2 separate regions of the Homo sapiens genome follow, and region 2 is linked to region 1. The links come from fine-mapping of genetic effects on gene expression. A gene starts in region 1. The other region holds a variant in brackets. All regions are shown on one strand. Distances are between the middles of the regions.

Evidence for each region. PIP is the estimated chance that this variant, and not a neighbour inherited with it, causes the effect.
Region 2: its variant is fine-mapped to the expression of LINC02624 in testis (GTEx, PIP above 0.99).

Annotation. Positions count from the first base shown.
Region 1 is chr10:106,135,067-106,143,413 of GRCh38, forward strand. LINC02624 (long intergenic non-protein coding RNA 2624) reads left to right here and starts at 5,099. Exons shown (of 5, transcript NR_134330.1): 1 at 5,099-5,260. It overlaps LOC105378469 (a long non-coding RNA gene), which reads right to left and starts at 4,791. Exons shown (of 6, transcript XR_007062381.1): 1 at 4,715-4,791.
Region 2 is chr10:106,164,794-106,173,140 of GRCh38, forward strand. The region is part of intron 1 of LINC02624 (long intergenic non-protein coding RNA 2624); the gene reads left to right. Among named protein-coding and RNA genes, the nearest start is that of LINC02624, 29 kb to the left of the region's middle. The variant C/T (reference allele first, on the strand shown) is at 3,753.

The sequences.
Region 1 (8,347 bases):
GAGAAGATTGAATTATTTTTAATATGGTGGCCATGAAAGGCCTTTCTAAAGAGGCTGCATTTTAGGTCAGAGACATGAATAAAGTGAGGAAGCAAACTGTTCACTCCTCTGTTGATGATAATTTAGCTTAATTTTAATTTTTTGCTACTATAAAATGATAAAGTAATTTTTGTCTCTGGTATACACATTGAAGTGTTTCTTTAGGGTGTATGATGAGGAACAGGATTACAGGGCTGCCCATCTTCAAGTATGTTAGATATTGTGTTGCATATTGACCTCCAAAATGATTGTACATCCATCCAGGAGCATATAAACTTTGAGGGAGGAAAATCTTCCACTCTAACCAGAGGATCTGTTGTCCCAAGAGAGTGGAGAAAACTCCAATTATATATTTTTTCCTCTTTGTCTTCCCACAGGCCAGAAACCTGAAGCTTCAATTACTATGATCTTCGCTACCCCTAATGTTGACACGGTCATGGGTAGTATATGGCAGCATAGAGTAACCAATGCTCCAGCTTTCTGGCCAGAGGACAGAAAAAGAAAGCACTAGGGAACTGGAAAATACCTGGGAGATTTTAGGGAGAGCTCAGGAATACAAACCCATAAATTTGTTTGTAAACCAACGGGCTCTAAATGATCTAAATATACTAACTAAAAAAGTGAGATGGACAACAAAGATTTTTAAAAATGGATTCAGCCAAGTGCTATCTATGATATACTCATGCCAAATGCAATGATAGAGTTAGATTAAAGTTAAAGGGTTGGAAAAACATTTCCCATACAAATGCTAATCAAAAGAAAGCTAGAATAGCTATATTAGTATCAGACAAAGTAGATTTCAGAGCAAAGAAAATTACCAGAATAGAGACATTACATAACAATAAAAGGGTAAATCCACCAAGAAGCCATAACAACCCTACATGTACATGAATATAACAAAAGAGCTTCAGAACATGAAGGAAAAACTGAAAAAACTGAATGGAGAAGTAGAAAAATCCACAATTATATCAGTGGATTTATTTATCAGTCATAGATAAACTAGCGGACAGAATATTGGAAAAGATACAAAGGGACTGAATACCACCAATAATCAATGGCTTCTAATTGATATTTACATAATTATCCACCCCAAGCAGGAAAATATTCATTATTTTCAAGTGTATATCCAACACTCACCAAATAAGGATATCCTGATTCATAAAACAAATCTTAACCACATAAAAGAATTGATATCATACAAAATGTGTTCCCTGAATGCTGTGGTTTTCCCACCCAAACTCATGCTGAAACTTGATTCTCAGTGTGGTGTTGTTGGGAGTTGGGGCCTAGTGGGAGGTGTTTGAGTCTCAGAGGTGATCCTTCATGAGTAGATTTATACCCTCCTATGGGAGTGAAATTTTGCTCTCCCAGGACTGGACTAGTTCCTAGAGAGTGAACTGTTATAAAAGCAAGATGGACTTCCTACACTGTCTCTTCCTCCCTTGCCATGTGATCTCTTTTCCCATGCCAGTTTTTGACCCAACATGTGGCCCTAGGCTCTTCAGCTTCCCAGCCTGTAGAATCCTGTGCTAAATAAATGCATATAGAAAATAAACTACACAGTCTCAGGTATTCTGTTATAGACACACTAAACAGACTAACACACTGACCATAACTGAATTAAACTATACATAAATAATAGAAAGATAGGTAAATTTCCAAACTCTTGAAAATTAAACAATACATTTTCAAATAGTCCATGGGTCAAAGAGAAGATCCTAAGAGAAATTGGAAAATATTTTCAAGAGAAATAAAATGAAAACACAACGTATCAAAATTTGTGAGATGCTGCAGGAGCAGTGTTTAGTGGAAAATGTATAGGATTAAATGTTTATTTTAGAAAGAATAAAAATAATACAGTCATTTTGAAAGAGAGTTTGTCAATTTCTTGTCAAGTTAAACAGACACTCTATTGCCCAGAAATTCCACCCCACCCAAAAGAAACAAAACATGTGCATACAAAGACTGAATGCAAATGTATATAGCAGCTGCATTAATAATAGTCAAACCTGGAAACATTTATATGGTTCATTCAACAACATAAATAAAACAATATAAGCATTCAACTGGTGAATGTACAATCTAATTATGCTATATCCACACAATTAACTAGTACTCAGCAACAAAGGCAGTGAACTATTAATATTTGAAACAATGTGGGTGAATCTCAAAAGCATTATGCTAAATGAAAGAAGCCAGATACAAAAATGAGATCATACATATCCTTGTCTACTTCCTAAAATCAAAGGACACTATTCAATACTTATTTAACCATGAAGAATTATGCTATCTGATGCCTTTGTGTTGAAACTCTTCACCAGACTGAGAAGGTTTTCTTCTGCTTCAAGTATGTTGAGAGTATTTATTATATGTGTTTAATTATATTAAATTTTCTTTTTTCCATTGAGAAAATCATTATTACTAATAGATTTTAAATATTAAATTATCTTACCTGGGATGAACCCCACTTGGTTATATTATATCCCCAAATCCAAATCCCTTGGCTATCTCCAAGTCAAAATCTCTTTAATATTCCTCATTACAGTAATGCAGTGTTTCCAAAATTCATTGCTTTTAACAGAACATTTAATTTTTCTGTTAAGACATTTTTCAGACTTTGTGTTCCACAGAACAACTATTTATAAATCACTGACATAAATAAGTTAATTAAAACCTGAAGTATATATCTAGCAATCATTAATTTCTTTCATCTTTACCCATGTATTCACCAATGACTTCTAACATTTTGAAATGAAAGACACAAGAATTGCAGTTACTCTTATGCTTACAAATGATCACTTTAAAGCACAATTTCAAAGAAGAGGCTACATATTCAAGTGGGAACAACTTGTGAATAAATCTTAAGATATTATTTGCCACATATTGATATAATAGTTGTAGAAAATGTTTTACTCTGTGGATGGTAGACTCACTCACTGGAAAGCTCTTGTAACTATATATTGATTCCTTAATGCAGTCATTTCCTTGAAATATATTCACTTGTCTTGATCTTGCTCTTTACAGTAATAATTTAATCACAGTTTTTCCCTGGTTAACCACTTAGCCGTCCTTTAAAATTTCAAGAAGTTCTGGTTATCACCTGAAATTAAATAAGGTAACCATTGACCTTCGAAGTTATATAAAAAACTTTTTTAAATTGGAGATTTTTTTCTCTGTAGTCAGAGTTACTATTTTCCCAGGGATGCTAAGTAACATTAATCTATGAAGATAGGTGCATTTTCCCTGCACACCTTCTCACACACACACACACACACACACACACACACACACCAATAGATACTTGAATTAGATACTTTTATTTGGAGAGATGGGATTCTTGAACACCTTGGCTCAAGAAATCCATTTGCCTCAACCTCCCAAAGTGCTCAGATTATAGGAGTGAACCACTGTGCCTGGCCAAAAAATATTTTTTAAGCAGTGACTTAGGTATCAAATATAAAATGAAAAGTATTTTATAAACTGGACTAGAACATTTAGTAAACTTCCTTGTTTTTATTTTTTTATTTTTTTTGAGACGGTCTCGTTCTATTACATGGGCTGGAATACAGTGGGAAGATCACAGCTCAGTGCAGCCTTGAACTCCTGGGCTCAAGCAATGTTCTCTCCTCAGCTCCCAAGTAGCTGGGCTTGTAGGCATGTGTCAGCATGCCTGGCTAATTTTCTTTTTTTCTTTTTTCTTTTTTTTTTTTTTTTTTTTTTTTTTAAGAGACGGAGTCTCATTTGTTGCCTAGGCTGATCTCAAACTCCTGGCTTCAAGTGATCTTCCCAGTGTACCCTCCCAAAATGCTGGGATTACAGGCATGTGGCACCATGCCCAACCTAGTAAACTTATTTTTAAGGTAGCTCAATTTAAATGTTGAATTGCGATAGACAGGAGAGACTAGACATTCTGCATTTGTCTGGGACGATTCAAACCTAAAACTTGGACCTTATCTTATGATGTGAAGGAAGGACTAGAACAAAGGTAATAATCACAGAGAGACCCAAACCAAGAAAGAATCTTTGCTTATGATAATGTTAAGGGAGATCACCTAGACAGCTTCTCCAGCCTAGCTGCTGGGGTAGATTCTGGAGAGGAGAGAGGAGGAGAAAGATGCCTGGGTTTTATCTTTGGTGAGTGAAGAATATTGTACTTTACTTACCATACTCTTTTTCTAAAGGGAGAGAAGAAAGGTAAAATACGGTGGGCTTTCTCCAGTTCGAAAGCAAGAAAAAGAAGACCATGGAAGTGACGAATTTTCCCTTCTATTAGGAAGAAAGGGGAAGGCTTGGGAATAGGAGAGAGTAAGATACTAGAAATTCTTCCTCTGAAGCTCAGTACTATTTTAATACTCTCCACATCACCCCCACTTTTTTTTGACATGTAACTTATTTCAAACAAACAAAGTAAAGTAAGCACTGAACTGTAAATCTATGAATGTGGACCTCAGTTTTCTTCATATGTAAAGTGAGAAGTTTGGGCTAGTCTCTGAGGTGTCTTCTATCCTCGTGTACCTGAAATGACCCAAGCTGCAGACACTGTTCGACACACCTTGTCACTACTGGAGTGGATGGCCAGGTGAATATTCTGGCTTGCTCATCCTGCTTGCAACAGCTGGGGCTGAAACAGCTTGTGGCAAATCTCAGGCTACAGAAGGCCTGGTCAAGGACTTACTCGCTGAGCACTGCTTCCTCTCCCTCTTGCTCAGCTTGGTAACAGTATCAAGGGCATAGAAACTGCAAGCTCCCCCAGGATCAGCAAATGCATTTTGTTCTTTAGGCTTCTCCTCCTGGTACTCTGCTGCCCTTTCTTCTCAGAAGCCCTACTGGGGCATTTAGCAGCTCCTTTTAGTCACTTTTGTGTCCAAGGGCTGATGCCCATGCAGAGCCTGCTGGCTATTGACTGACTAAAGTTTGGTGGTGGCCACCTCATGCCTGCAAACCACCAGGTTTGAGTATCTTGGGAGAAAGCTCTGGGATAATACCCTCCTTGATGTCAGAGTGTATGGGGCCTTGTTGAAGAGTTGCCAGGCAGCCAAGAGAAAGTGTTCCACACATAGAACAGGGGGAGACTTGAATCCTAGAGAAAACAAAACAAAACCTAACAAAACAGAAATGAACCCTTGATGAACCTCTTGCTCTGGACTGGTGCCCTGAAAATGAATGAAATTGTTTTAAAGATTACCAAGAAGATATAAAATATCAAATGCGGCATTAATGTGTGAGTATTATATTTTATTTTATTTTTAATTGTGGCATAACACATGTAAAATTTATCATCTTAGCTCTGTTTAAGTGCACAGTTGAGTAGTGTTAAGTGTATTCACATTGTTGTACAATCAATCTCCAGAACTCTTTTCATCTTGAGAAACTGAAACTCTATGCCCATTAAACAACAATTCCTATTCTTCCCTTTCCTGGATTCCTGGCAACCACCCTACTACTTTTGTTTTTAATAAATGTGACTACTCTACGTATCTCATATAAATAAAACAACACAGTATTTGTGTTTTTGTGACAGGTTTATTTCACATAGATAATTTGCTCAAAATCCATCCAGGATGTAGCATATGTCACAATTTCCTTCCTTTATAAGATTAAGTAAAATTTCCTGGTATGTATACGCCACATTTTGTTTGTCCATTCACCTGCTTATAGACAGCTGAGGTGCTTTCACCTTTTTGCTATTGTGAATAATTATGTTATGATAAAGGGTATACAAATATCTCTTTAGGATCCTGCTTTCCATTTTGGGGGGTATACATGCAGGCATGGAATTGCTAGATCATACAGTAATTCTACTTTTAATTTTCTGAGGGATCACCAAAATATAAGTGCTATTGTCTGAATATGTGTGTCTCCACAAAATTCATATGTTGAAATCCTAACCCCGAAGATGATGGTATTAGGAGGTGGAGGCTTTGGGACGTGATTAGGTCACGTGGGTGTAGCCCTCACGAATGAGATTAGTCCCCTTATAATAAAGAACCCAAAGAATTCTCTTGATTTGGTGATTGACATCATTTCCTCCATGGAAGTGAATATAAAAAGAGACACTGTAGAGGACCCTGAGATAATATATGGCTAATGATGAGACCCTTGCAGGTGGTATAGAAGCCTCTGGTTTGCCAGGGCAGATTCATATCTAGGATCAAAAGGATAACCCTAGTTGCTTAACAGGGAATAGAGTTGCATGAGAATGCAACAGTTTATTATAATGTATAGTTATTATAATAATTACAGGAATAGTTTATTATAATTTATAATTATATTAATTTATAATTATAATTTATAACTTATAATTTAAAAATATCTTTAATTGTACACCAAAGTCATTCATATTATATACATAACATATATATAATACATATATATGAATATTTCTGCAAACAAACCTTTCAAATGTAAAACCAGGAAAGAAGCTGATATTCAAACTGTCAGTTCTACTTCCTTGTCCAGCAAAGATGATATCAAGCAGAGTATATTGGAAATAACCTCATAAAAACTCAGGCACTAGTATACCATATACCTAATCCTAATGTCAATAAATAAACCAGCTGCTTGATAGAAGCCCACCAAACAAGTTCCTACATAGCCGACTTTCATTTCCTTACCAGGATGATAAGGAGGAAAAGAGATATCATTAGCTCTAAGATGGATACTTTAGAAGGAACAGTTCTTTCAATGATTCTAGAAATCTTATCTGGCTTATGTATCTTCTGGCATTCACAGAGAACCTGTAACTATTTTGCATACATTTCTTCTGAACCTATGTCTTATTTCTGCCTGCCACACAAATCCAGAGTACCTATGATTTAGATTACTATATTATTTTCCCAGTTGCCGTAATATATTCAAACAGATCAAGAATGTGAGATGTGCTCTAACTAGACTCGGAATAAAATCCTTCTAGTTCTTTATTAATCCCATTGCCTTGAAAAGCAAACAAAACTCTGCCCTGAGGTATAATACAAACCACTTGCTTTGTTATTACTATGGCTATCCTATTTCTTCAGGAGTGCTGTTGTCAGAAATGATTCTTCTGATTTTGGTGGTTGTAGCCTATATCATCATTTAGAGTTCACAGATATGAGAAAGCAATTGAGATGACACTTGTTTTACTAAAGTCAATATTAGTTAACCTGTTGTTTACCTGTAGTTCAGCCCTACATTTATAGACATGGGAATTTCGATCCATGTCTAGCCTGTCTCTGAGCTCTGTAGGCAGAAGCAGAGATGATTTCTAGAAAAATAATCCAGATAATAAAGGATTTGCTTCAACCTTTGTAAAGTATTTTCTCAAGCCTAAATCCCATTAACAATTACATCTACAAATGGATACCACATTTGTTTCTAACCACAATTTCAATGACTTCTACATAATCTTAATGATAATAACATGGGATAGGATGTTTGTGGCTCCTGATGGAAATCATCACAGATTTTGATGATCCCATGCATATTGTTTTACAAGGGCCTGGAGAAAATATTAAGGCCATGAGAACAGCATCTATGAAATGAACGCAGTGGAGCTAGTGCCAAGGCTAGGGTCTAGGAAAAGTTGACTTACCCCAAATTTGCTGATTGTGCCATTCAGTTGACTCTGCCCTTGCTCTTGGCTTGCTCCTTGGTCATACGTTCCTGGACTGAAGGCTTCAACATGCCTTTAGGAAAGAACAGCCAACATTTCTAGTAGGATATCCAGTACTGGGATCCAAGGCAAAATGCAGGCCACTGAAGAAGCTCACAGCTTCTAGTAAAGCTCAATTATGTATTTGTTGATGAGAGAAAGCCTCAGGGTGAAAGAGAGAATGTTGACTTAATTTATTAAATGAGAAAACTAATGGAAATAGATTCAATCATATATATTTCTACTTACTGTAGAAAATATATGATGATAGGACTACAATTTTCAGATGAGATTGAGAAACCAGCTGCCTTCAGCATCTTCTGTGACTGATTTACTCTAAACTAGGAATGAGATCTGCAAACCAACAGGTTCTACTCAACCACGCTTTACTTCCTGCTTTCTTGTGGAACCATGCAAGCTTAGGGAGACCTGTTAGTCTTGGGCTTGTGAACTACAGTTCTCCAACAGCAAATGTGTCATGCATTCCCTGGGCAGAAGGGTCCATGATCACAGACTGTGGTATCAAACTGTCTCCAACAGCAACCAAAGAGTGTGTAGGATGTCTGAGAAGGACACTAAGCAAGCTAACAGCTGGACTGGGAGAAAAAAATAACTTTCCATGGCATGTTCAAAAATTATGTGGTACCCTCAGAACATGCAAATAAACAATTATATGTG
Region 2 (8,347 bases), 30 kb after region 1:
AATTATATCAATAACAACATTACATGCAAATGCATTAAGGGCAGGGTTTTTTAGACTTTATGCATTAAAAAAAATTTCTGACAATATTCTGTTCTCAGGATGGAAAGATACTTTGTATCTTTAGATTCAAATATAGAAACAGGTTGACTGTAAGAGGATGAAGAGAAATATAGCAGGCGCACAGCAATTATAAAAAAACTGACCTATACTAATACCAGGCAAAATAGATTTTGAAACAAAAATATCAATAGAAAGATATTTTATAATGGTAACAGCATCAATAAATCCAGAAGGAATAACAATTATAAATAAATATACACGTAACAACACAGCCCCAAAACTCATAAAGTCTATAAGAGTTGAAGGGAGGAAGGGACAATTCAACAATAGTTAGGTATTTTAATATTCACTTCAATAATGGATAGAACTAGAGAGAATAACAAGGATATAGATGACATGAACAACACTGAACCAACTAAATCTAACAAATATCTATACAGCACTTCACTCAGCAGAAGAATACACATTCTTCTCTGGTACTATGTAACATTTTCAAAATAGACAATATGCTAGACTATAAATCAAGCTTCAGTAAATTTAAACACATTAAAATCATATAAACCATGTTTCCTGACCACAATGATATTAAATTAGAAATCAATAACAAAAATAAATTTGGGAAATTCACAAATATATGGAAATTAAATGACACACTCCTAAATAACCAGAATCAAGGAAGAAATCACAAGGTAAACTAGAAAATTCTGAGATAATGGAAACAAAAATACAACATACAAAAACTTAAACTTATAAGATGAAACTAAAATAGTCCTGACAGAGACATTTATATCTTTAAACATCTATATTGAAAAAAAAGAAGAAATCAAATTGATAATCTATTGCCATAAGAAATTGGGAAAGGAAGAACAAGCTAAACACAAAGCAAGCACAAGACAGGGAATAATTAAAATAAGTGTGTGAACAAATGAAATAAACATAGAGAAAATCAACAAAACAAACACTGGTTATTTTAAAATATTACTTAATTGACAAAAATTTAGAATGATTAAGAAAAATGATAAAAGGTTCATATTTCTAAATCTAAAGGCTGAAATATGTTTGGAACTGCTCTGATTGGCATACAGTTGCAATACTCTTTCCTTATTATTCCTTTATTTCTGTGTGTTTGGTACTGGCATTCTCTTAATCAGTACCAAACACACATAATTTGAAAGAAATTAACAAATAAAGTATATCTGATGCTTTACACAAATAAAAAGTAAATATAAAAATTAAGGAGATTAAATTAATAATTTCAATACTTTTCACAAAGAAGAGCTTAAGATTCAGAGGGCCTTCTTGGTAATTTCTACCAAACATTTGAAGAACAGCTAATACTAGATCTTCACAAACTGTTTTTAAAAAGGAAGAAATTGTCTATGAGGTCAGTATTACCTTGATATTAAAACCAAAGACATCATAAGAAAAGAAATCTACAGGCCAATACTTGTTATGAATATAGACACATAGACACAAAAAATATTGAAAAAATATTGGCAAACCAAATCCAATTAACACATAAAATGATTACACTCTATAACCAAGTGGGCTTTATCCCAGGGTTGTAAAGCTGGTTTAATATCCAAATGTCAATAAATATAAAACACCATATTAATATAATAAAAGGAAAACACTATGCAATCATCTCACTAGATACATAAAGGTATTTGAAAAGAAATACAATCTCATTTCATGGTTGGAAAAAAATAAAACACTCAACAAGATAGGGAAAAAAGAGAACTTGCTCAACCTGATAAAGGAAATCTATCAAAACTCACAGTTAATCTCATATGTGAGGGTGAAAGATTGGATGCTTTCTCCTAAGATCAGGAATAATACAAAAAGTCAACTGAGATTATAACAGATGAGAACAAGGACACAGACATTACTTCAAAATGATATGATTGTCCCTAGAAATAAAAGAAAATTAACTTTAAAACTTTAAAACAATGAAGATATAATAGTGAGAATATAATATATATAAAGCTCTTAGCTTTTTATATTCCAAAACTCTAGGTCATAAAACAAAGTCTAGAACCAAAATCAGGAAACTATAGAAATTCATCATAAAATGTGTAAAAAGTTCAAATAAATGGAGGAATAGATTATTCATCTGGTGGGAAGAAATAAATATATCTAATATTTTCAAAATTCTGCAAATAATATATATGTACCAAACATAATTGAAATCCTGATGACATTTTTTACAAAGTTATCTTACAGTTTACCTTAAAAATTTCACCTATGAACTTTAGAAGATTTGAAAAGGAACACTGAGGGAGTGTTTGCTTTAAATATTAACACTAATATTAACACTATTGTATATCTTTTCCGACATTATGCCTAATAGAAAGATGTATCACTAGATTGTATGTGGCATCTTTATTTATTCAGTGAATAGAGCCAAACATTTCAGAGTACACACTGAGACTGACAAATCACCTTGAATGCACTTATCATCTTCCTTGGGAGAGTAATTGCAAGGGGCTAGTCCTCACTGTCTGGAGAGATGTGTATAAGATGTCCCATGTTTGGGGGATTAAGTGGTTCAGGTAGAGTAGGGAGTGGTTCTTGGCCTGTAGCAGGCTTGGTGCCAAATCCATAAGGTCACTGCAATGTCAAGGCTGGTTTGCACCTAAGAAGTGGCTGTGTAATGGCGAAGACATCTAAAAGTATGGATCTGGTGCCTAAGCAAGATACTGAAATATCTTATTCCTTTAAAGAACCACTCTGAAGGACTCCCATCAGTAACAAAGGTAGCAGGCACAAAAAAAAAAAAAAAAAAAAAAAAGACCTGTACTTTGCCACATCGCTGTAACCTCAGCTTTCAAGACTGTTTTCCTGGCAAGGTCAGTTTATCCCCTTCTAGCTCAAGTCTTCTATGAACAAGATTTCTCTTCATACCTGGAGAGAACATGCATGCTATCTCCACGTTTCTCTCCATGCATCACTTCATGTTTGGGAAGTTCTTGTTTTCTACCAGGGAACCTCAAATGTACCACAGTTTACACTTCCCCATGCTGAGTGGGCTATGCCTTGTTGTCCAACAGAACACCATAGCCAGAACTCTACCATCTTGTTCCCATGAGATAATAGAGATTGTGCCATTCTGTCAAAAAAAAAAAAAAAAAAAAAAAAAAAACACCTCACTAAGTGTCAATTAACCCACTGAAGCTTTCACTTAAAGACGCCTGGCCTTTATGGCTGGGAACCTTAGCTGCTGAGGGAGATGATACCATTTTAGCATCCATAGCTGGGACATGGCCAGAACTTGATTCATCTACTGTACTTCAAACAGGATGTGCCAAGGCGTTTTTTAATCTCAACCACAATTCAAGGCAGAGAAAACCTGAACACTCCCATTCCAAGAACTTGCAGACACTGCAGAACCCCTGACTAAATAACCAAAGATTGAAATCTAGGGGTGGATGATTTTCTGAACTGGAGACTATTACTACCAAGTTAGAGGTCTTTAGAATTTGTACACTTCTACCATGCACATATAAAAATATGTCTTCTGAGTTTTCCATGAAAAGATAGGGAACCAGTGTTTATATGACATACCTTTAATATGTGTATTCTCATTTAATCTCATAATATTTCTATATTGACAACTTAAGTTTTAACTTTCTCTTTTGGTCATATTAGGCTTTCAGGTTTAGGAATGCTATTCTTAAATGCTATTTTGCATC[C/T]GCATCAATTTCAGTCCTAATATACACACTTCTCATTTTAGAAAAAATATCTATTTTCAAAGAAATTAAAGCCAATAACTTTGTCCTGCAATTCATAAATTCTGAGAACTTCAGTGAAATTTCCTTGTTTGCAGATCTCCGTATAAAATGTTTGTCAAATGCTCCAGAAATTCTTTCCTAACTTCCAAAGTCCCAAAGAAATAAAAAGAATATTGGCAACAAAAATTTAAAAAAAGATTTCCCCCAGAGCTTTTGCATCCTCACCTAGTTATTTGGTTCAGCCCTGAGGAGGATGCTCAACATGTCTGGGGGTAGAGGTCTCTGACCACATTCATTGGAAAGGACCTGATTAGACCTTCTACTTTTGAACTGTTTTCAGTGGTAGAAAGTTTCCCTTTGTCTTGTGTTGAAATTAACTTCCTTGTTCTTCTTTGTATGAATGTGTCCTCTGGAGTGCTAATGAATGAACTGATACAGTTTCTTGCCTCTGAGTTGCTGTAGTTGCCTTCTATCCCAATCTTGCATATTACATGTCTTTTGTATAGTGACATTTTGAATCTTTCCCTGCAATATTTCTCCCTTACCATTGGCCCAGATTTGGTCACGCCACTACACCCTATCTGTGGCATCAGATGATAGGATACAACTCATAAAACCAGGTGATGCTTTGGGGGCTTTTGTAAATATACCATCAAGTCGTAGACATTGCCAGTAACCAATTCAAGCTATTTCCCTCTTCACCTTTCCTGCCTGTGTACTTAATCGACTACTACAGCCTGAAATATTCATGACTTCTTACTCATAGAATCATTGATCACGTGTGATTTCCCGCAAAAACAAGCAGGTTTAAAGAAGCAGCTTTGTGCCAAAAGTTTGCAGAGTAAAGACTATTTTTTTCAGTCATTTCACAATGCCCTGAGTTATTGCTGTGGTTTATTAATTCTAACTCTGTTTGTTTGACTTCACCTTTCAGTATAAGTTACTGTGAGTCGGTTTCTGCAAGGTAGCGATATGTTCTCAACTGCTAGTTATTTTCCAGGAATGTCTTTTCTTGTCATGTATTCAATTAGTCATTTTAAAAAACACATTTATCGCTACAAAGCAAGGCTAGAATTAATGCTGATCTGCTTCTTTTTCCTGGATTACTGCATTTTCCAACTGTTTGTGCCTCAGCATATGGCCCCTATGTTCTTTTATTAAGAAAAAAAGAAAAACATTTACATTGGCCATCTTCACTGCATTTTGTTAAATGTCATCTAAAAATTCTATCTGCGCTCTGACCATCACTTGTTCATATTTGAAGTGCCCATCGTATTATTTACTAAGACAATTACCTCAGCATTTGGGATCCTTTTGATCTAAACACCGTCACATATTTTAAAATGTGTTTCATCTTTTTAATTTAGTTGGTTCTGGGACTCAGGTTTTGGAATGCTATTCTTAAATAAATCATAGTTGATGACAAGAAGTCAAAGTTACTTCCTGAATTTGTTTCAGAGCTTTGGAATATGGAAAGCAGAATGCATGCTATATTTAGGGTAGTCTATAACGTTTTCTGTGGATTCAAGTTATTTCTTTCCTCTTGTGAGGAACAAAATTGAACAGTCTCATAGATGGCAGAATGGCCCATGTGTGGTGTGGTCCTATTGCTACAAAAAAAAAAAAAAACTGCTTGAGTCTATACTAACAATATCCTATTCACTTTAACCTTATGTGCAATGACTGAGAGATAACAGCTGTTTCAGTGAATATCAAATGTTGCCCAGAGGAACACATGCATTGCTCTTTCTGTCTATATAGAAATTTATCAGCGCTTTTCTGCCCATGCACATCTGCTGGTGTGCCATGGCTCAAAAGGCAGCAACCATTCTCACTGAGCACCAAGGAGAAGTGAAGTTGGTCTTGGGACTATTTTGCATAGAGTCCTTGGTATGGGTTAGAGACAAACGGATAGACCTCCTGAGATGCTCCTGCCAAGGAAAATCAGATGACAATAACCAGATATTTGTATATCACCTTATAGCTATACTATAGAGAATATTCACAAATATCATTTCCTTTTTGTTTCACTGCAATCATGTGAAGTCAAGTAGTAGACTTTTTTTTTTTTTTTGAGATGGAGTTTCGCTCTTGTCGCCTAGGCTGGAGTGCCATGGTGCTATCTCGGCTCACTGCAACCTCCACCTACCAGGTTCAACTCATTCTCCTGCCTCAGCCTCCCGAGTAGCTGAGATTACAGGCATGCACCACCATGCCTGGCTAATTTTTGTATTTTTAGTAGAGACTGGGTTTCACCATGTTGGCCAGGCTGGTCTTGAACACCTGACCTCAAGTGATGCATCTGCCTTGGCCTGCCAAAGTGCTGGGATTACAGGCGTGAGCCACCACACCCAGCCGACATTTTTTATTACCTGCTCACCACCTTCCCAGGTGTTAACCCTTCCCAGCAGCTTCAACTTCTGCTTGGGAATCTCTATAGGTTCAAAGAAGCTGCTTCCTTCACCCACTCTAGGCTGAAACCCATAACTGAATCTAAGCCAATCCACATGTTTAATTTCCCTGGTCACAGTGATTGGTACAGGCATGGACATGGAACATATGCTGATGCAGTCAGGGTGAATCTCAGGAAATTTTCTAAGCACCCTGGAATGAAGACATCACGTCGTTCACATCACCCATAAATGGCAATGCATCTTACTGTGGAACCTTCTGGAACACATCTTGGGACCATGAGGAATAGCAACCATAGGATAAAGCCGGTATATTAGAAGTCTAAGCAAGGTGTTGGAGAGAAATCAAATCTTTGTAATATTGGCACTTTAGTAAAAGGGCAGGAATAAATATTTTCTCTGGGACTTTGAATTGTGTGAATCAAACAAATTTCTTTATCATAACAATCCATTTAAATTTGGTTTTAATTTACTTAGCTCTGAAAGTGAATTCATATAAAGGGCTGTCTTTGCTGAACTCTCCTACAGACAGAGCCTGAGTCAAAGGTTTGGGAGCACATAGTTAATTTAAGGTAAAATTTAACAAGATGATGAGAGTGGAGAAAGAAATTCAGAGCAGGAGAAAAGCCAGTAAAGGAGGTGTTAGGGTAAGGAATCACAGTAGGAGTGCCACAGTAGGCAGAGCAGGAATGATTAACATTTTTCATTTCAATGTATTTTAGAGAGGTTAAATAGACATCTTCAAACTCAAAGACTATAAGCAGTGGTTATGTCACAACAGTGCTAAAACCTGAGATTTATTGAACATTTACTATAAGAGGATTATGCTAAGTTCTTACCATACAGTATCTCATTTAATCTTTAAAACAATCTCTGGAGATAGTTATTATAATGCTTAATTTATTTAAAAAAATGAAATTCTGGGTAGAGAAAATTGTGTAATTTGCTCAAAGCCACATGTCAAGCATGTCAGAGTTATATCCCAAACTCAGGTCATTCTGACCCCAACACTCCATGCAACACTGCCTCCTACCCAGCCACAAAAGGTAAGCCAGCAAGGGAAGGAGCGGTCACCAACATAAGGAAACACTACCATTATTGAAAGAAACACATCTCTAAATTTCCTAGGTGAATTTATAATCTTATTTAATTTTAAAACAAAGATGTCCTACTTTCTCAAAGATTCAATTTTATCTTTCAGTAAGATGAAAGGGTTCAACCATAGTATCTCTAAGAGCCCTAATAATTGTTAGATTATATAATGGTCTGATACAAGCTTTTCAAATGCAAATATAAGTGAGTTTTAAAACATTGTCCATATGTAAGTGCATCTGAGAATACATTTTATTTAATACATAAAATTGCAATGTGTATTTGGGTATTTTCAAGACGAGGGAAAACAAGGGCTATGTGTGGAACAATCAGATATAAACACAGATTAATACAATTCAGTCTTTCAAGGACATTTATTGAGTATCCCCTTTAGGTCAGGTACTATGCAGCCATTGAAATATCAGTCCCTGGAAGCAAATAAAAACAAAAAGACACCTAAGAGTCGTTGGCAACCAATTTCATGCCACCCAACAAAGTCTCTTTTCTTGAATAGGATGAAGGTAGTGCAGGCCGAGAACAGAAAAGATAAAACAAATAATCTAATTCTAATTTGCACTTCAGTTTTTGCCAAATTATAAAGCTGGTTAGAGACTTATTTAGGATATAAAAATTTGTGTGAAAGCCTCTGAGCGCACGCACACATACACACACACACATATACACACACACACACACACACACACACACAGAGGCATCTATAATATGGCAGCATCTCAATATGGTTCTCTCTAAGGAGGCAGCATTAGCTGGTGGAAAGAACAATGATTTGGGAATTAGGCAGATTTGGAAATAAACCTTCCCTCAACCATTTTCTAGTTGGGGAATATCACTTTACCTTTCTGAGTGTTCCTGTCTTTTGAATGACTTAACTACAAATTTGTCAACTAGGGTTGATGTATACATAGTTCCTGGCCTAGGTACTCAAATAGATTAATAATAATAAGAAGAAGAAATAGTTACTATTCATTGAGGTATTTTTAAAATCATTTACAGTATGGGTTTTGAGAAACTGTTTCCTTGAAAAATAAAATC